Linked DNA regions of Homo sapiens. The protein of the gene in region 2 interacts with the protein of the main gene of each other region in a pairwise test. Each region holds a gene or a part of one and is shown on either strand. Other genes may lie near its edges.

Region 1 (3,749 bases), on a different chromosome or scaffold from region 2:
AAGTTGTATTTCCTTATGCCTTTTAAGAGCTATTAATTTTTGAAGGCCACCTGTCTCTTTTTTGGCCTCCAACATTAAGAAAACATACACTAATAGGTTCTTATTCATTGCCTAAAATATAGTGTTCCAAAATGAATACCCTACCACTGCCATCCTGGAAAAGGTGTGGAAAACAGATTTCAATGAAAGGCATAAGACATGTAATCTCATCAACAGGTAAACCTGGTTTTTCTGCAGTTCTCCTCCCTAACACCTCTAAATTTATGCCATCTTATACTATAAAAGATGGTATGAAATCCTGCTCATATTTCTTAGGTGTGCTTTATACTTGGTCCCTACCTAACACTGCTATTGCCTGTATTCAGTGCTTCACAATCTAGCAACATTTTCCATCTCATCTCTACATCCTTTCATTCTCACCATGCATGCTGGTGAACTGCAACAATCATTTTTTTGTATAGTACTTTGCTAAGTCAGAGAAAGAAATGGTATAAAACCAGCAACAAAGTGAAGCTCTAACTCGGGGAAAAATTAAGCTTTTACATCAGAAGGAGTGGAGAGAAGGTCTACCATTTTATTTCTAGCATATTTTTTCTTTTTTGCTACCAAGTGTAACTACAAACAGCTTTACCTCTATTCTGAATAGGTATCTCCAAATATTTATGTTGCTCATTCATTGTTCTCAACTCTGCCCTGCAGATTCACTTCATTAGAATCCAAATCACAAAAATCTTTAAGCATTTATATGTCTTGGCACTCCTTGAAGAAGCTTGAAATACCTCATCAGCAGTGACTGGTTAGTTTGCAATTAAAAAGTTCAACTTTTATTCTTAAAATGGTTATTCTATGTAGCTCCCCATATTAGTAAATTAAAGTGCACATAATGTCATGTAATTAACACTAAGAAACAGAACATACATTTAAAATTACCTCATAAACTTGAGCAAGGGAAAAGGGCAAATATAAGCATCAAAATATGGCAGCATAATTTTAATGGTTAAAAGTTTTCAAATATTTGTCAAACCCCCACCTCCACCACCGCACTAAGAAAATGCATTACAGAAGACAAAAAAGTCTATTTTTTTCCCCGAGATTTTTGAAGCTTGCTAAATTCCTATTTGCAGATAAATGTTGTTTTTTTTGTGATCCTTACAACAGACATTAATGAAGTTCCTATTGTAAATCCATAAAGAATTACCAAGTGAAGTGTGCACTTTTTGTTTCAATGCAATAACTCAGTGCTGTGTGATTGCCTGGGTTAATGATGAAAAAGTCAAACATACTATCAGAGCTGATGGAAAAATCTATCACCAATCTGAAATTAAAATTCATCTGTGGTCAATAAGATTTAATATCCATGCAAGTGGCGCTGTAAAGAGTAAATGAATCAATGTCATCAATACATAATCAGTATGAAATATGATGTGAATAAAATTATGCACACGAGTCATACATTTCACTCTTTTCTGGGCCGGTGTGGAATGAACAGTCTCTTAACTGAAGGTTGACAGTAATTGTTACAAATTAGGCACAGCAGTTATCAAAATGCACTCACTTGCATAGCTATAGGACTTATTAAGGAGATTAAAATAGATCTAAAACTATCCAGTACTGGGGGTGCTGGACAACTGTTGATCACCAATTTTCCCTCTGGAATATCTTCTAATACTACATGATTTGTATACTTGTATAATTTCCTAATTTTTAATTCTGGTACAAGGATTTTCAAGTTGTGGATCAAGAATCAAGATACATAATTTCTAATGGCACTATTAATGGCACTAAGCGGGTTAGCAAGAACAAGAACTTGGTTTTAAAAGCCATAACTTATTCAAATGTTATGGTACCGCCAATGAACAAAAATGCCCTCTTATGAAGTTACAGAATGTTTTGTAAAATTACTCTTCTAAAAAGTAAATGAATTGTAAATTGGGTTTGGAAGGCAGGTGTCCAGATTGCTATTCCTAACGCAGAAATCATTCTTTCATAACAAAGATCTTTATTCTCTTTTCCTACCATAAATGTTCTAATTTTTCTTCCACAATAACCTATCACATCATGTTTCTGAATTTCAAAATTGTCAAATGGAATAAATAACCAGTTATATGGAAGCTTTACATTTTGTTTGCTTTTGCATGTGATAATCTTATGTTCAACGTGAGTGAAGCTACAGATATAACAAAGTCAGGATTTTTTTTTTAACTAGAAAGGATTCACAATTTAATCAGCTATCCTACTTCTGAACACTCTATGTACAACTAGTAATCTACATTTCTTTAAAAGGGCATGCAAAAATACAACCACCCAAGAAAACTCTCTTGCTAGGTTAAGAGGTTGAACCTTCCAACTTGCTCTAATAAAGCTTATTAGTAATTGCTGGGTATTCACCTTCTGGTCTGGCAGTAGTGGATTGCTCTGAAGTGAATTCAAATGGCCATTGATGAGAGCTGTAGGTCTATCATGTTCACAAAATAAACTGCCATTGATGTAGTGAAACCGATCTCCCGGGACCAGGCGATTCCGGCAGGTAGAGCATGTAAAACACTGAAAGGGAAAAACAAACCCACTGAAAACAAGGTAAAAATTAAGTCTTTTTTTGGTCACAAGTTTATAACCTGTTATTAAGCAGGTATCTGTCAAGTACAGAGACACTTAGGGTTTAGCGTTTTTTCTTCCTTTGACAGATCTCCAGAAAACAGTAAGCCAAATTGCTATCAACTGGACCAGGCTAAATGGGGACAAATCCAAATACATGTGTACTTCTGTCTGTGGCATAGGGGAAGCGTGGTCTGTGCATGTGGATGTGTAACCATCACTGCCATGCTACAATTTCAATCATTCCTTCAAGTGTCTGCAGCTTGAGAAAACAGTTCATACCAAGGAGAAATGCTTTGCCCCCATGTAGGTAGGAAAGGTATGATTTTTTTTTTAAAAAAAAAAGAGAGATGCAAATACTACCTTAAGATGATACACATTGCCTTGCGCCCTCATGACGAGTTCACTCGCAGGAATCGACTGTCCGCAAGCGCTGCAAGCACCGCTATTTCCAAATAACCTGAAACAAAGAATAACGGTTGACACCAGTGAATAATCCTAAACCAAAGAAAAAGAAAGAAAAACACCCCCAGACTCTGGGCATCCCTTTGGAATGCATTTGACAGGCTGAATTCTTAGGCTCAAGCCTCAGATTTTCTGAGTGATTTACATAATCTGGGAAAAATCCTTTTTGTGGGACAACAAACTTCTGCCTACCGCAGAGGATGCCCCAGATTTAATCAAAATATTGACTTACACCTCTAGCAAATACAATTCTGTTCTACACACATTTTATCAGATTACTAGGTTCATCATAAAAAAAAAAAAGATACAATTCATGACTGGAGTTTAAATGCATTGTGTCCTTGAAATTATATGAAGAACTCTTTTGTACTTTAATCATATCTTCAGATATGAGTCATCAAAAGGGTTAAGAGGATTTGATTGTATATCTAAGAAGACATCATGCTCAGTGTATTGAAACTCCCGTAAACCTCCATCAGTGCAGACTTTCCATTAGAAACTCTCTGCTATCCAGGTTGATATATAATGTGTATGGGTTAACCTTTTCAATCATGGTGTCAACACTTAAGATTTGCCTCTGCTCATCTCTTTCATCCTAACCTTCTCTCTCTCTTGATAATGAAATGCTTGCTCCAACTTCCCTCTATCTGCTCCTGAGTCCACAATTTAGATTACTTCATCTCTGCTAG
Region 2 (3,749 bases):
CTACCGAAATCGTGGAGTAAACTTTATCTGTTCAGCAGGCTGTTTCGGGTAGATTTTGATATATTTTCACTGAACCTCAGGGTGGCCCCTGAGAAATATGCTTTTTGTAACTAGGGGTAGCTCAAGCTTAGAAATAAGGGCAAGCTGGCTAATGGGTTAGTCTGGACCAAATCCCTTTCCACTGGATACCTCACCTACTGCAGCCTGGATGATGTGCAGTCAAAAGTTTCCCCCCACAAGAAAAGTCAGATTGCCCTCCTTTAAACTCTTCCTTGTTACCTCTCTTCACTCTACAGTGAATGCCATCCTGGAAATGCAAACCATCTCAATAATTGAGCCCATGTCCAATGGAATTAAACAATATGCTGACTGTGAAATTACATTATGATTTCTAGAGTGAGTAGCAATATTTTGTCGGATGATGTTGATATCCCTTTGCAGTCATGTGAACAAATAGGAATAGGATCTTCATAGCAATACACAAGATGAAGGTCCTTGTGCTACCCCACACAGTGCTGTCTCCACCTTGCAGGATAAAGGCTGCAGTTCCAAAGCTCCCGGCTGATATCGGCATTTGCTCCTTTGCACCTCTCTGGTCCTCACACAAAGGAGCCTTCAGATGGCTGTGTGTGGCCAGAAGCCAGTCTCCCACTTACCTGACTTTGAAATCTTCCACAACATCCTGCATGTTCCTCAGTTCAGCTTCAAGCCTGCCCCTCTCGGTGGTGATGCTTTCCAGCTGCCGTCGGAGCTCACTGGTATAGGAATCAAAGAGGGGCTCTAGGTTCTGCCTCACAGTCCTGGAGCCCTGCTCCTGCAGGAGGGCCCACTTGGTCTCCAGGACCTTGTTCTGCTGCTCCAAGAACCTCACCTGGAGGGAAGAAGAGAGAATGAAACCTTGAGAAGTTGGAGAGGCAGAGTTAGACACTCCTATTAATAAGGGAGAGAAGAAAAAGATATTTTTTTCACTTGGCACCCATTGACAATAATGTAACTGACAACTCCAACCCAAAAGGAGGCAGTCCATGGAGCTACCGCAAAGTTCCCTAGGGCTTGCATAGGATTCGGGTGGTGGGGCCTAGAGGCTTCTGTTGGGGAGCTGCTCTTGGGTTAAGTTTCTCAACACCACCTACTCTGGGTTAGGGTAGTTTGCTGAGCAGCAACTCTCCTGTAGAGAATCAACAAAACTCTTCCCTTGGTGTTGACTGAACCAGCCCATGTGGCTCCGAAAGAGAGGAAATTTCTACCAGGTCCTGTGGGGCAAGCTGGCCTGACTTGGAAGGGTCTCAGCCCCTGGGAGCCCGTGCTGAACAGTGCTCATTCCCACAGTGGGGTCATTGCATTATTGCTCTCCCCCCATGGGATGGCCCTTCCAAGAGTTTATTTGATCCCAAACCCAAGGGGGTGGATGAAGCCCCTGCTTACCTTGTCGATGAAGGAGGCGAACTTATTGTTGAGGGTCTTGATCTGCTCGCGCTCCTCGGCCCGCACCCGCTGGATGGTGGGGTCGATTTGCAGGTGAAGAGGAGTCAGGAGACTCTGGTTGACAGTGACCTCTTGGATGCCTCCAGGGGGACACACGGGGAAGCTGGGGCCACTGAAGCCTCCTCCAACTCCACCCCCATAGCCAAATCCACTGTTGACTCCAAACCTGTTGCTGGCCCTGCCACCAAAGCCACTTCGGCAGCTGCTGCCACACCCATTGATGGAGACCCGCTTGGCACCCCCCAGGTTGTAGAGGCTGCGGCTTCCAAAGCTGGCCCCAGCACTGCTGATCCTTCCCAGGCCCCCACTCCCTGCTGCAGAGCGGGCCACAGAGACAGAGCTGAAGCGGGAGCGGCCAGCTGCCGGGGTGATGGCCGAGGTGGTGCTGAAGCCCCTGCGGCTGCCAGACTGGAAGGTGATGGAGGACTGCCGAGACATGGTGGGTGAGGAAGGCCGGCGAGAAGGCACCTGAGGTGGGCTGGTACAGGCAGTGGAGAAGACAGGTGGCTGGAGAGCCCTGGTCTCGTGGCTTTTATGAGCATCCTGTGGGGGCGGGGCACTGCTAGTGGAGAGGGCCTTCTGATGGCATTCCCTGGGCATCCGCCAACCCTGAGCTCACACTCGGCATCCCTCGGGAAATGGTGTAAGGGCCACTGGCTGGTTCCCTGGCACCCCCTCCCCACAACGTGCAAACTCCTTTCCAGTTGCAACTTGATCAGCATATGAGTAAGAAGCAAGTTAATTGCTTTCCGTCATGTGCTAATGATGCATCTTGTAAAGGACTCAGCAAACACTGCCTCATTTCTAAACCGCTTTCTTAGGCCTGGGACCAACTCCGTCCTGTCCAAACATCTTGTGTTAATACAAGCCACTACACTTCACTGTTTCCTTGGGGTGCTTCCTATTCCCTAAGCATTTTCTCAGCACCTACTGCCTGGTTCCCCAAGCCCCATCAAGCTGTCTTTCCAAACCTTGAAGGTCGCGCTCTGTAATCATCTTCCTTAGGAATCCACCCCATTTTGATTGCCCCTTTATTCTGCTCTTAAGCTTCCGTGTCTATTGTGTAGGTCACACATGGTTTTCTGGAGTGTATGTGTGCCTGTGCCCTGCCCACTGCAATATAATGTGACTCTCAAGGCCAGCCAGTGCTCTGTCTCCTGGGAAGAGAGGTTGTGAGAGGAGAAAGACTCGGGTTTGAATCTCAGACCTGCTCATAGTTGTGGGACCTTGAGCAAGCCATGAAACTTTTCTGTGCCTCAACTTTCATGTCTGTAAAATGGGGTTTGTAATGAATATTCACATGTGAAAACTTTCGCAATGCCCGGTATATGTAAGTGCTGAGTAAATGTCTATTGAGGCTCCCCTCTTTCTGATACAATCAAGTAATATTAAGGAAGTGCCAACCATGTCCATCCTGTGACTAGTCCTGTGGGAATTCAAAAGAAACACAATGCACATTATTTATCTTCAACAAGCTCATGGTCCTGTTGGGAAGATAAAACTGTACAAGATGGTGTACCATGAATCATCACCTCCAAGCTGCATTTGAGGCTGCCTATCCCAGAAGTCTCCCAGGCAGTTTCCTCCTCCTCCTGAGGACCAAGAATTCCTAGCTCTCCAGTCCTTCATCAAAAGAGCTCCAACAGCTGCACCTAGCAGAGGATTCGTTCCTTCCCTGTTTCTCCTGTTAACCTTGTAGACTGTGCCCTACATTCTATATTAGTCTACAAACCGCAAAGAAGACTTCAAGGCACCTCATCTCTCTGTTCTGCAACTCATTGCCCCATCTCTACCATGGGAAGAGTCAAACCAAAACATTGCTGAATCTTCTTTTTTTTTCTGCCTTGAGACAGGGTCTCACTCTGTCACCCAGGCTGGAGTGCAGCAGCTCAATCTCGGCTCACTGCAACCGCCACCTCCTGGGCTCAGGTGATCATCCCACCTCAGCTTCCTGAGTAGCTGGGACTACAGGCATGCTCCACCATGCCTCTCTAATTTTTTTACTATTTTGTAAAAACTGGGTGTCGACATTTTGCTCAGGCTAGTCTTGAACTCTTGAGCTCAAGTCATCCATCCTCTTTGGCCTCCCAAAGTACTGAGATTACGGGCTTAAGCCACCGCGCCTGGCCTGAATCTTCTTTTATCTTGCTGCCTGCTTTCTTCTTGCTGTGGTTTTGAAGCCTGGGAGAGTAAGAGAGGAATTAATCAGCATTCAGTCTCCATTTCGTGGATGAGGGCATTGAGCCCAGAATGGTTAACTAGTC

What was found. The genes of interacting proteins can lie anywhere in the genome.
Region 1: the proteins of KRT75 (region 2) and LMO4 interact in binary tests that used the Homo sapiens proteins (3 or more experiments, as listed by UniProt).

What each region holds. Positions count from the first base shown.
Region 1 is NC_000001.11:87,338,842-87,342,590, reverse strand, and holds part of LMO4 (LIM domain transcription factor LMO4), read right to left. Parts: intron 3,056-3,749; coding exon 2,959-3,055; intron 2,545-2,958; coding exon 2,389-2,544; intron 1-2,388. UniProt on the Homo sapiens protein: Transcription cofactor. Plays a role in establishing motor neuron identity, in concert with MNX1, acting, at least in part, to disrupt LDB1-LHX3 complexes thereby negatively modulating interneuron genes in motor neurons.
Region 2 is NC_000012.12:52,432,382-52,436,130, forward strand, and holds the start of KRT75 (keratin, type II cytoskeletal 75), read right to left. Parts: upstream 1,991-3,749; 5' UTR 1,924-1,990; coding exon 1,426-1,923; intron 872-1,425; coding exon 657-871; intron 1-656.